4 linked regions of the Homo sapiens genome follow. The protein of the gene in region 1 purifies or fractionates together with the protein of each later gene. This does not show direct contact. Each region holds a gene or a part of one and is shown in the gene's direction. Other genes may lie near its edges.

Evidence for each region. Proteins that work in one complex are often made in the same cells at the same time.
Region 2: the proteins of TMEM63A (region 1) and AP3S2 purify together in Homo sapiens (affinity purification with mass spectrometry; 2 studies listed by BioGRID and IntAct, with this or other methods). This does not show direct contact.
Region 3: the proteins of TMEM63A (region 1) and AP3B1 purify together in Homo sapiens (affinity purification with mass spectrometry; 2 studies listed by BioGRID and IntAct, with this or other methods). This does not show direct contact.
Region 4: the proteins of TMEM63A (region 1) and UBAC2 purify together in Homo sapiens (affinity purification with mass spectrometry; one large-scale study listed by BioGRID and IntAct). This does not show direct contact.

The regions. Positions count from the first base shown.
Region 1 is NC_000001.11:225,858,381-225,861,880, reverse strand, and holds part of TMEM63A (mechanosensitive cation channel TMEM63A), read left to right. Parts: intron 1-883; coding exon 884-1,021; intron 1,022-2,531; coding exon 2,532-2,685; intron 2,686-3,500. UniProt on the Homo sapiens protein: Mechanosensitive cation channel with low conductance and high activation threshold. In contrast to TMEM63B, does not show phospholipid scramblase activity. Acts as a regulator of lysosomal morphology by mediating lysosomal mechanosensitivity.
Region 2 is NC_000015.10:89,830,099-89,832,546, reverse strand, and holds the end of AP3S2 (AP-3 complex subunit sigma-2), read left to right. Parts: 3' UTR 1-1,948; downstream 1,949-2,448. UniProt on the Homo sapiens protein: Part of the AP-3 complex, an adaptor-related complex which is not clathrin-associated. The complex is associated with the Golgi region as well as more peripheral structures.
Region 3 is NC_000005.10:78,288,199-78,291,698, reverse strand, and holds part of AP3B1 (AP-3 complex subunit beta-1), read left to right. Parts: intron 1-3,500. UniProt on the Homo sapiens protein: Subunit of non-clathrin- and clathrin-associated adaptor protein complex 3 (AP-3) that plays a role in protein sorting in the late-Golgi/trans-Golgi network (TGN) and/or endosomes.
Region 4 is NC_000013.11:99,242,354-99,245,853, forward strand, and holds part of UBAC2 (ubiquitin-associated domain-containing protein 2 isoform 1 precursor), read left to right. Parts: intron 1-1,478; coding exon 1,479-1,598; intron 1,599-2,161; coding exon 2,162-2,271; intron 2,272-3,500. UniProt on the Homo sapiens protein: Restricts trafficking of FAF2 from the endoplasmic reticulum to lipid droplets.

The DNA.
Region 1 (3,500 bases):
GGAGGCACCCTCCTTTCAGACATCTGCTCTGGGCCACAGATCCTTCTGTCTGTGGCTCCCCACCTTCCCACAAATGCAAAGCTGTGGGGAAGACCCCTGGGGCACGCTGGGGCGCTCACTGCAGTGGGGAGCTTGACCCTGGGGAGTGGCTTTTCACAGTGGCCCTTGGCATGGGACTCTAGGCTCTCATGCCTGTGGTCTCAGTGTCATCTCGCCTTAGGAGCAGCACAGGGTGGGTCGGGAGAGGGGTGTGGAAAGGTGTCCAGCCACTGCCCCAGGCATTGTGACACTAGGAATGGACTCACACAGGACTTCCTGCCTCCTTGCAGACACTGGGGCAGGAGGAAAGGGGAAGGCATCTGAGGCAGGAGTAGAGGGGCTGCTGGGCTCCTTACGGGAGGTTAAAGGAGGAAAAGCTGTGACCTGTTGAGATGGTGAGGGTCGAGGTGGGAGCCCTGAGGAGGGAAGCTTGGGAACAGGCAATGTGTAACGTGGTCTATTGCTACACTTGGGCCTGGGGAAAAAGTGACAGAATGAAAAGTTGAGCCACTGGCCTGGCAGTAGCACTGATCAGAGCTCCAGCTTAACAGGCAGGGTGGAGGGGGATGGCCCTATGGAAGAGCAGTGTGTTGCCCTCAGTTTCCTTATCTGTAAAATGGGAATCGTACTCCCTTTGTTGCTGGTGGTTGCGAGGATTAAACAAAATTCTCCACACACTGTGCTAGCGTGGCACCTCTTACATAGCGTTACTCATAATACACTAATCACAACAAAGCAAAGGTCCTATGCCACTGCCTCCCACTCCTACTCAGTCCCCACTTGCCACATGTGTGCTTGGTAACCTGAGTAGCCTGGGCCTGGCTGTTGCTACATTTCCTTGCAGCATCCTGAAAGATTTCAATGCCTGCAAGTGTCAGAGCCTTCAGTGCAAAGGTGAGCCCCAGCCGTCCTCCCATAGCAGGGAGCTCTATACCTCCAAGTGGACAGTCACCTTTGCTGCTGACCCTGAGGACATCTGCTGGTAAGCTCCTAGACCAAGGAGAGGTGGGAGAGAGGCCTGGGTTCCTGGTGGGAGCTGCCCATCACCTGGAGCACAGGTGTGACCTGGCAGTCAATGGAGATCTCCACACATCTGCAATTCTGTGGGCTGTGATGCTGTGATGTGCTCGGTGTGGCCCAACTGGGGTATCTGCCCAGCCCTTCCCTCCAGTGTTCCTCCCTAGCATTCAAGTGCTACCCAGCAGAAATATAATGCCAGTTCTGCATCTAATTTTAAATTTCCTAATAGCCATGCTAAAAAAGTAAAAAGAAACAGTTGAAATTAATTTTAATAATGTATCTCGCCCAATATATCCAAACTGTTATTTCAACATGCAATTTTTGAAAAATGTGAGATGTTTTACATTCTCTTTTTCACACTTAGTCTTCAATATCTGGTGTGTATTTTACACTTCTAGCACCTCTCAATTCACACCAGCCACATTTAAAATGCTCAGTAGCCGCATGCAGCTTGTGCAGCCTTACTTAGGTCCAGTGTCAGCCTGGGGCCGTGCTGGGGAGCTGAGCTGTGTCCATGGGGGCCCTGGTGAGCCTCCAGTGCTGTGCTGAGGGTAAGGGCACCCAGCGCAAGCCCCAGCGCAGCTGCCTGTCCAGCCCTGCCTCAGCTCCTTGCACAGAATGAGCTTGAAGTGCTCCCCTCTGCTCGGTTCTAGTTCTGCCTCTGACAGTTTTGCTCTTTGGTTCACAAGGCTTCCTAAACTCAGGATTGCTTTGTGGGTCTGTTCTTTGGGATGAGAGGCCAGGGCAGGTGCAAGCTATGCCTTCACTCCTTTGTCCCTGCCTTCCTCCTTCCTGTACCCCAGCTACAGCCCCGTTGGGAAGAATGTGTCGTTAGTCACAAAGCATTGCAGATGTGTCTAAGAAATGCCACGCTGGGGCCGGGCGTGGTGCTCACACCTGTAATCCCAGCACTTCGAGAGGCTGAGGCAGGCGGATTGCCTGAGCTCAGGATTTCAAGACCACCCTGGGTAACATGGTGAAACCCTGTCTCTACTAAAAATACAAAAAAATTAGCTGGGTGTGGTGGTACACGCCTATAGTCCCAGCTACATGGGAGGCTGAGCAGGAGAATTGCTTGAACCTGGGAGGCAGAGGTTGCAGTGAGCCGAGATCACACCACTGCACTCTAGCCTGGGTGACTGAGCAAGACTCTGTCTCCAAAAAAAAAAAAACAGAAAAAGAAAAAATAAATGCCATGCTGGAGCCTTGTTTGGCCTGCTTGGGTGCTCATGCCATCTCTTTGGGTAGGTTCTGGCCCCCAGACTTTAGCTGGGGAGCCACATCTGAGAGAATAATTGTTCCCTCTGAGCTCTTGGGGACCTAAGATTTGGTCTTTCTGTAGTTGAAGGTCAGTGCAGAGAACTTGCCCCCAGGCTAGTCTCTTGGTCTGCCTAAATCTGACCTTCTGACCCACCTAAGCCACGAGCACTGGGAGACAAGCCTCGAGACCTGTATCCCCTCTCCCGCTGCAGGAAGAACCTCTCTATCCAGGGCCTCCGCTGGTGGCTACAGTGGCTGGGCATCAACTTCACCCTCTTCCTGGGGCTATTTTTCCTGACCACACCCTCCATCATCCTGTCCACCATGGACAAGTTTAATGTCACCAAACCCATCCATGCGCTGAATGTGAGTAACTGTTCTGCAAGGCCCCTCCCAGGATAGCTGGTGAGAAGAGGGCTTGGTGGGTGGGGAAGGAGTGGGGACAGGAGTGGGGTGTGTGCGGGGAACTAAACCAGTGGGTCATGTTGCTCAGCTCACATCCTTGCTTTTAAGCCCTGAGCAGGCATGGCCACATTTATTACAAAGTCCTTATAGTAATGCCATACACACACACACACACACACACACACACACACACACACACACACACACATTATATGTATATATACACACACATGCATACATATATATTTTAATAGACTATCTAAATACTGAATGGTAGGGATCATTTGAGTTGAATGTGGTATATTCAGGTTGGTAGACTATCAAGCATCCATTCAAAATTGTATAGATTTTGTGGCACCCATGCAGGGCTCCTGACAGAAGCAGGGATGTACCAGTGAGGCATGTCTATCATGGACACTACGGGGAGGGGCCAGGAAGGAAGGAAAAAAGCTTCGTTGATTGGGGTGGCAGGATCACAAATTATTTCTTTTACATTTTGGTTGCTAATGACCTTGTTATAAAACTATTTTGGGGCCGGGCACGGTAGCTCACGCCTGTAATCCCAGCATTTTGGGAGGCCAAGGTGGGCGGATCACCTGAGGTCAGGAGTTCGAGACTAGCCTGGCCAACATGGCACAACCCCATCTCTACTGAAAATACAAAAATTAGCTGGGCGTGTTGGTGGGCGCTTATAATCCCAGATAGTCAGGAGGCTGAGGCAGGAGAATCGCTTGAACCGGGAGGTGGAGGTTGCAGTAAGCCGAGATTGCACCACT
Region 2 (2,448 bases), on another chromosome or scaffold:
ACTACACTCCAGCCTGGGCAACACAGCAAGACTCCGTCTCAAAAAAAAAAAAAAAAAAAATAGGTTAAGGTTGTATAGAATACTAGGCTTTCCTTTTTTTGTGAGATGGGGGTCTCACACTGTGGCTCAGGCTGGAGTGCAGTGGTGTGATCATGGCTCACTGCAGCCTCGAAGCCCCGGGGTCAAGTGATCCTCTCACCTCAGCCTCCTAGGTAGCTGGAACCACAGGCACGCAACCACCACTCCTGGCTAGTTTTATTTTTTTAGTAGAATAAGGTCTCACTATGTTGCACAGGCTGGTCTCTAACTCCTTACCTCAAGCCATCCTCCCGCCTTGGCCTCCCAAACATGTTGGGATTACAGGTGTGAGCCACTGGACCTGGCCAAATACTGGGTTTTCAGTGCTCACTGCCACTAATAAAAATCTGAAATTCTTTCATTATGCAATTTCTAAGTGCCTGGTGAGGGCCAAGCTCAGTTCTAGGCTCTGAAGATTAAGAGAGAAACAAGGCTCTGTCTGCTCCTGTTGTCTCTGTGAGCATCTTTGACAGAGTGCTCAGATTGTTGGGATATAGTGCATCGGACTGGCAGCCTGAATTTGTGGAGACCGCAGTCAGTAACTTTGTGATATATGGAATATTTAGAGGACAGTAACCCATTTCCCTACGCCCTACCTGATCACATCGTGCCCTGCTGGGCCATACCCCAAACAGCCCACCTTCCTCTAGGCCTGGCCATGGCCCTGTGCCTGCCACATTGAGGATTAAGTCAGGATATCTTGAGCCCTCTCAAATCCCTGTTTATTCAGGCCTCTGCCACATATAGAGCCAGCCTTCTGTCCCCACCACTTCCACTACCATGGAGCCCACTTAGTAAAACGCTCTCTGGGCCCAGCTTCGCCAGAAAAGACACCAGGGGAGCAAGGCTCAAACCAGGGGCAGCTAAATCTGATCTTGTGGACCAGTCTCTAGTAAGGGCTTTCAGCGTGGCTGTCTGTCCATTGCTTTCCAAATAGGATGCAGCAATGATTGGTACATGGGTATTAAGATCGGTAGTAGGGGCTAGTCCAAGTTTAGCAATAGCCAAACTGGAGAGCCTCTGAAGTATGAGAGTCCCAGAGGGATTTGTCAGCTCCTGGCAGACATCCTGATTTTCACCTTCCTGAGTCTACCCTACCCCAGAGGGTGCCAGTCTCACTGTGGTGATGGTTAGCCCAGTGTGTGCTGCACTCACACACCAGCACGGGGTCCGTGCTTGCAGGCTGGTGGATGCTGTCCTCTGGGTTAAGACTGTCTCCCTTCTCGGGAGCACTGGAGGGTTCTCCATCTGCGTGTTTCAGTGGAAGTTGGCAGATACGAAAACAGGCCCCTATAGGGAAGCAGTTCCATGAAAATGATTAATTCTTTCCAAAAGACTTAAAATTTTTTCCTATTTCAATTTTCCTTTCAAAAAAGGAAATACATTCATGTAGTTCAAAACTTAAGAAAACAAAAGTCTGTTCAGCAAAAGACTCCCACTCCGGTTCCCCAAACGCTGAGCCCCACCCCCCATCCCTGGTAGCAAGAAGTGTTTCCAATTTTAAGGTTAAGAAACAAAGTCCCTGGATTTGTGTTAGGGATGTCTTCCTGAGAGTGGGTTGTGTTCCGTTTGACCCTGGCGGTTGACCTCGGCCCACTAGGATCATGCCGCCCTCTCCAGGGAGGAGGGCCTCCCCATCACCCTGTACAGTGGCACCCCAGCCCTGGCACTGCCCGCCCTTGCTCAGCGTACCTTTCCCATGGCACTCTGACGTACTGGATGTTTGGTTTCTGAAGTTACTGGCTGTTTACCCTGCCGGGATGTAAGCCCCTCCAGGGCAGGGGCTTGTCTCGTGTTCAGTGCTGCATCCCAGCTGCTGGGCACGGTACCTGGTCCATGGCGTTCAATAAATAACTGTTGGATGAGTGAACGGTTGAGGCAAATGGCAGTTCATTCTAACAGTCTCAGCATGTGCTCTCCAGGTCCCTGTGCTCAGCACTTGGGAAGGAGAACCAGAATAGTGGTATTGGAAGCAGGAAGTGGGAAGGACCCGATGATGGCTCGTGGAGGCTGAGGGAGAGGAGAATGGCAGAGCTGGTGTTGGCAGGTGGAGCCCGTGTAACGAGGAGGCGCAAGGATGGGGCTCTCGAGAGAGGGAGGGGGTTTGGGAGGGTGGCAATCAGGAGTTTGGATGTGGAACGCATTCGGTTGGGGTTGTCCAAGCATCTCTGGGGGCAGATGTCCACCAGCCAGCTGGGAAACTGAGTGGGCAGGAGAGGAAATGAGTCTCCACCCAGAGATGATGATTGGAGGTGTGGGGGTGAGCGCTGTGGCCGAGGGACAAGAGGGTTGAGGACTGAGCCTGTGGGCAGGGGAGAGAGGAGCATCTGGACAGCGGGCGACTTCAAGTCAAGGAAGCACTTTCAGTGG
Region 3 (3,500 bases), on another chromosome or scaffold:
CCTTAGCCTTTTTTGTCTTTCATGAATTTGACATATCTAAGGATTGCAAAGCCTATTATTTTATTTTATGTTAATCAGTTTTTGGGTTTGCTGGTGTTTCCTCATGTTTAGATTCAGGTTATGTATCCTTGGCTGGGATACTACCATAGGTGATGCATGCTTCTTGAACTATTACATTTGGAGGCATAGGTTGTCCATCTTCATGATGTTAATTTTCCTAGTCACAGGGTTGTCCAGTTTCTCTGTGGTGTCATTTCTGTTTTTTTTTTTTTTTTTTTCAAATTATCTGTGGGGAGACACTGAGACCATGCAGATGTCTTGCTCTTTTTTAAATGGACCACTTCTACATTTAACAACCATTGATCAATCTCCTGAACCTGTCTTTTCCACAATGGCTGCAAAATGGTAATGTTTCAGCTGCAACTCCCTCTGCTGTTCTGCTCTTTGGCTTCTTGGCCTAGAGCTCTGTGTTCACTGATCCTTCACTAACCATCTCAATGATGCCTAGGTACTTCCTAGTCATAGTATTATCGGCAATTTTTGTTTTCTGAATTTAATCTTATTTATCAATATTATTTATCTTCTCCTCTCTTCAAACAGAAGCAGAATTAGATGGCTTTATGAAAGTAGATCCTATACCTAATTTATTGGCTAAAAAGGCCTGTGTATTAGATTATTGGCTTCAAGATTTTCAATTTCTTTATTTAAAATGTAAAGAACTTATTTTTGTACTCTTATTTTTTATTTTTTGAGACATGTCTTACTCTGTTGCCTAGGCTGGAGTGCAGTGGTGTGATCATGGCTCACTGCAGCCTCAACCATCTGGGCTCAAGTGATCCTTCCCACCTCAGGCTTCCGAGTAGCTGGGACTACAGGTGCATGCTACCATGCCCAGCTAATTTTTGTATTTATTGTAGAGATGGGGTCTTGCCATGTTGCCCAGGCTAGTCTTGAACTCCTAGGCTCAAGCAATCCGCCTGCCTCATCCTCCCAAGGTGCTGGAATTGGAGGCGTGTACCACTGTGCTTGGCCCCTTCCTTCTTTTTAAAATATTCTCAACTTTTATTTTCTGTTTTTTTCTAAGTTGTTTTTCTTCATTTAAAAAAAAACTTCTTTTAACCAATTTGGGTATGTGTGCCTATAATTAAAAATAATTTTAATAATTCTGTTACTGGATTAAACATTTAATTAGGAATTAATTTCTAGAAACAGACAAGACTAATTAATTTTTCTTAATTACAATAGTAAAGCTACTAAATTTGTAAATCTCTTTTCCTTTGAGAGCATCTTGGTGTATTAGAAGGAAGACTGAGGCTGGGAATGGTGGCCCCTGCCTGTAATCTTAGCATTTTGGGAGGCCCAGGCAGGAGGATTGCTTGAACCCAGGAGTTCCAGACCAGCCTGGGCAACATAGTGAGACCTTGTCTCTATAAATGAAAATGGGAAGAAAAAACAAAAAACACTGGGCCCAGAGTTAGAAGACCTGGATTTAAGTTGATGTTTTCCATTTGTAGTAGTGCTTCCTTGTTCAAGTTGCTGATCTCTTCAAACCTCAGTTTCCTCATTTCTAGACGGGATGTGATAATACTTGCCTCTTTTGTGAGGATCTCATGAGATGGTGTACTTCAAAGTGATTTCTAAACTAGGATATTAACTAACGCTATTTGGGAAAGTTGGTGAAGACTTCACTGAGGTAGTGACACTTTAGATCTTAAAGCCTGAGGTTTTTGCCAGGGGGAGGAAAGATGGATTCTTTAGGCAGAGTATGTAGAAACCAGAAGATTTGCAAAAGAAAAAGCATGTTCAAATGAGATGGATATTTAGACATCACAATTATGAATAGTAGGTAGTAAAGTATGGGAATGGATGAAATCACCCAGGGAAGACTTTTCTTGTTAGACGAGAAGGCAGTTTGGACAAAACCCAGGGGACAACAGGATATAAAGTATGAATGGAAGAACTAGAAAAAGAGACTGAGCTCAGAAGGGTGGGAAAACACAGGAAGGTTTAAAAAAGAAGATGCTAACAGGAAAATTAAAAGAAGGAAATGTTCAGCTATGTCAGGAGTTGTAGAGTAAGGGCAAATAGAATGAAGGCTGAAAAGAGGCCCTTGGGTTTAACAACTGAAAGGTGACTTTAGCAGCCAGTAACTTAGCAATGCAGTACCTCCTGCACACGTTGAAAGGTAGCATTTTTACTCTGTTTAAATCGGGGTGGGCTTTTCATTTGTTTAGATTCAAAGAGCTAATTTAGATCCAAGCAAAGTACTGCATGCTTTCCTGTAGTCAGTAATACAACCCAGTGTATTTGGATTGCATCAATAAAGCCTGACTTATTTTTTAACTTAAATCTTATTCATTGTCAACTTTACAATATCAAACATGAAAATTCTATTACATTCATTCTTAACCTTTAATATCAGTGATTCTCAGGAGAGTCCAGTAGGAAGATTACATGTGTCTGTGGTTTGTACGCAATTATAGCAACTCTGACTTTATCTCCACTACTTTTTGTATCTTTCTGAAAGGCATATAGAAATGCAGCTGAGTGAGATTCATTTACTTAGAGGGATGTTATTGAATATACTTTCTTAAAAATACAATTTTATTAATAGTAACGCATTATATTTGACCTACCTCAAAGAGTCATTGTGTCTCACTATGGGTTCTAAACTTGTTTGTGTTTAAGTCCATTTTTTATTAATACTTAATTTTATCTAGTGTCTGTACCATATTTTTGGGTGTTTTTTTTTTTCATTTAACATTTTTTCATGGTCTAGTTGTTTAGAGCTTGCTCTACTTTCTTTTTGCTTATCCTAGTATTTCTCATTTAAACTTTATCTCATTGTGTATTTTCAGTTTATGTAGTTGCTCAGTGAATATTTCTTAAATATTTATATAGATAAATCGTTCACACATTCTGCTCATATTAAAGACTGTGATTTGTGTGAAGGTGCCTAGCAAAGTGTTTGGCTCATAATTTTGCTTAATAAAATATTTTCAGATCCTTTTACTCAATTCAGTGATTTAGATTCCATTAACATTTGCTCTCTCATTAGCCAATGTTGTTAAAAAATGAAGCATGACTGATTCCGTGGACCCTATACAGAAGGAAACCCTCATCTGGTATCTCCATTGTATTGTAGTACAGCATCACCCTGAAGCTAATTTTGTGTAGTTCACTTGGGTCTTTGCTGTGGTTAGGATTAACTGACTCGGAATTGTCATGTAGGTATGGAATGAACTTTACAATCAGGATTTTTAGTCTTTATCCCAGTCTTCAAAGGCATCTTTACCTCCCAGTCTTGGATTATTCCATATGTATGGTTCATTCCTCTGTGTTTTCACCATAAAAATGCATAACAATTATAGTGTCTTTATCTTGTTTTTAAGAAACTCAGACTTTATTTGGAGAGATTAGGCTAATGTGAACTAACCGTCAGTAATTCAAGTATACAATTAGTGTTAAATTGTGTAATTCAACTTTTCAGTGTGGCATAC
Region 4 (3,500 bases), on another chromosome or scaffold:
ACGGGGCGGCTGTCCGGGCAGAGGGGCTCCTCACTTCCCAGTAGGGGCGGCCGGGCAGAGGCGCCCCTCACCTCCCAGACGGGGCGGCTGGCCGGGCGGGGGGCTGACCCCCCCACCTCCCTCCCCGACGGGGCGGCTGGCCGGGCGGGGGGCTGCCCCCCCCACCTCCCTCCCGGACGGGGCGGCTGTCCGGGCAGAGGGGCTCCTCACTTCCCAGTAGGGGCGGCCGGGCAGAGGCGCCCCTCACCTCCCAGACGGGGTGGCTGGCCAGGCGGGGGGCTGACCCCCCCACCTCCCTCCCGGACGGGGCGGCTGGCCGGGCGGGGGGCTGACCCCCCCCACCTCCCTCCCCGACGGGGCGGCTGGCCTGGCCGGGGCTGACCCCCACCTCTCTCCCGGACGGGGTGGCTGCCGGGCGGAGACGCTCCTCACTTCCCAGACGGGGTGGCTGCCGGGCGGAGGGGCTCCTCACTTCTCAGACGGGGCGGCCGGGCAGAGACGCTCCTCACCTCCCAGACGGGGCGGCGGGGCAGAGGTGCTCCCCACATCTCAGACGATGGGCGGCCGGGTAGAGACGCTCCTCACTTCCTAGATGGGATGGCGGCCGGGAAGAGGCGCTCCTCACTTCCTAGATGGGATGGCGGCCGGGCAGAGACGCTCCTCACTTTCCAGACTGGGCAGCCAGCAAAATTTTAACTTTTATATCTGTTTTACCACAATAAAAATACAAAGAAAAGTTGGAATTAATATTTGTTTTACCTATCTCATAAGGTCATTGTGAAGGGGAAATAAGATTAGGATGTTTGAGATGTCATTGGGATTATCTTTAAAAATCTGAAAAATGTTTAAGCAGACTCAAAAATAGGCCTTTGAGTAGCTCTTTTTTTTTTTTTTTTTTTTTTGTATGTCCCCTTATATGTTTTTTATGCAGCCAGAAGTTGGGTGAAACAATGATTTAAATAAACTAATATTTCAAACCTAGTCATATTTAGCAGCAGTTGCCATAAATTACTTTGCATAGTTGCTATGAAGTAAGTTGATGATTAAAATTAAGCTCAGAAATGCATATTTTTGAGTTTATACCTAAGTTGTTTTTCAGTTACAACTTTGTCTTATTCAATAACATAAAAATGAACATTTGTTAGCCTTTCATTCTAGTTTACGTATATAATTTTAAAAAATCTTACTAAACGTGATCCTGAAATTTCTTATAGGCAGTTTTCTGTTATCTTAATGAGAATATGTTTTCTTATAAGCACAAAAAAATTCAAGTACCTTTCGTGCCACTGTTGGGAGGAATTTTTACTATGAGAGACTTGAGCTCAGAGAACATACATATATAGTTTTCCTTTGGTGTGTGCATTATGATTTTGTTTAGGACATTAAAAATAGGCAGTGTAAACATAACAAATTTGCTAAGGAAGAGACCCGAACAAATTTTACTCTTGTTTATTGTTCTTTTTTAAATCCCCATCTAGATTTGGAGGTTGATATGTGGAAGAATAATTTGCCTTGATTTGAAAGATACTTTCTGCAGTAGTCTGCTTATTTATAATTTTAGGATATTTGAAAGAAGATATGGAAGCAGAAAATTTGCAGTAAGTTTTTATGTATTTTGTCTTTGCTACTTAGGCTGTAGAAAAAAATTTTGTTTAAATGGATTTTATTTTGTTAAACTTGGTGTTGTTATTTACAGTTATCTTTTTAATTACACTATTCTGTATCTGATTTGAGGCACATGGACATTAACCAAAGAAAATTTTAAAATGTAAGACATTAGCATAATAATAATAGTGATAATGATAATATGTAGTATTAGTTGTGAACACTAATACAAATTTTAATACTTTGACTTTAATAAAATTATAATTTATTTTGCTTAGTGGTTTGTGTTTTACTTGTTAAAAATATATCTTCAACATACTTAAAAATTATGGCTGTTAATACATTTGAGCAATATGGGTTTACCCCGCCCATTTTCTAAAGTCTATTTTAATAAAAACAAATAATTTCAAATATATATACACACATATGCATGTGTGTATATACACACACACACATACATATGAATACACACCTCTGAGCTGATTCTAGCTGAATAAATGTTAGTTTATTTTTAGGAGACTCATCTCTATCATTTTTCTGCTGTTTTATTTTGTAGTCCTTTTTGCTGGGTTCCTGGGTTTTGTCAGCCTTATTTGACTTTCTCCTCATTGAAGCTATGCAGTATTTCTTTGGCATCACTGCAGCTAGTAATTTGCCTTCTGGATTGTAAGTAGCACTTAAAGATTGACTTAATTTAGAACTACTTGAATCTGATTTAAAGTGTTATTATTATTATGTGAAAGTCAGTAAAATAATATTTTAAACTTCTAGATATAGTTAAATTGATTTTATATGTAAAAAGTCTAATCTATGCCTACATTTTTATTATGTTCTTGAAATAGAATCAATTTTATATTCTTTCTTTAAAATTTATTTTACTTTTTTTTTTTTTGAGACGGAGTCTCGCTCTGTCACCCAGGCTGGAGTGCATTGGCACGATCTCGGCTCACTACAACCTCCGCCTCCCGGGTTCAAGCGATTCTCCTGCCTCAGCCTCCCAAGTAGCTGGGACTACAGGCACGTGCCACCATGCCTGGCTAATTTTTGTATTTTTTAGTAGAGACAGGGTTTCACCATGTTGGCCAGGCTGGTCTTGAACTCCTGACCTCAGGTGATCCACCCGCCTCGGCCTCCCAAAGTGCTTGAGCCACTGTGTGAGCCACCTTGCCCAGGCACCTTCTTTTTTTAGCTTTGAAAGTTTGTGTTTTAGAGAATTTTAAGTGAATTTCCTATTCTGATCCTGATAGAATTAGTTTTGTGTGTTTTTATAGTGAAATTTGTCTTTGTAATTTTATGAACTAAACACAAAAATATAGTTTAATTAGATTAGGAAACAAAATTAATTTGTACGAAGTTAAGCTTCTGAAGAATAATTTTTTAAAAGCTGATAATGTTTAAACACTTCCATCAAACATAAAACAAAGCCGGTGTATAGGTTATAACTTTGTAGACAACCTGCCGTGGCCAACCCCACTCAGAATTTGTATGCTTTCATATTGCGTTGATCTTCTTTAAAAAAAACAAAAACCATGTATTAGTGTGTGAAATAACTAGAATCTAGGAGTAGAGTTGACAGAACGAGACTCCATCTCAAACAAACAAACAAAAAAACAGGCCGGGCGCGGTGGCTCATGCCACCTTTGGGAGGCCGAGGTGGGCGGATCACGAGGTCAGGAGTTCAAGACCAGCCTGGTCAATATGGTGAAACCCCATCTCTACTAGAAATACAAAAATTAGTTGGGCGTGGTGGCACGTAGTCCCAGCTGCTCAGGAGGCTGAGGCAGAAGAATCACTTGAACCCGGGAGGCAGAGGTTGCAGTGAGCGGAGATCGCTCCACTGCACTTCAGCCTGGGTGACAGAGTGAGACTCCGCCTCAAAAAACAAACAAAATACC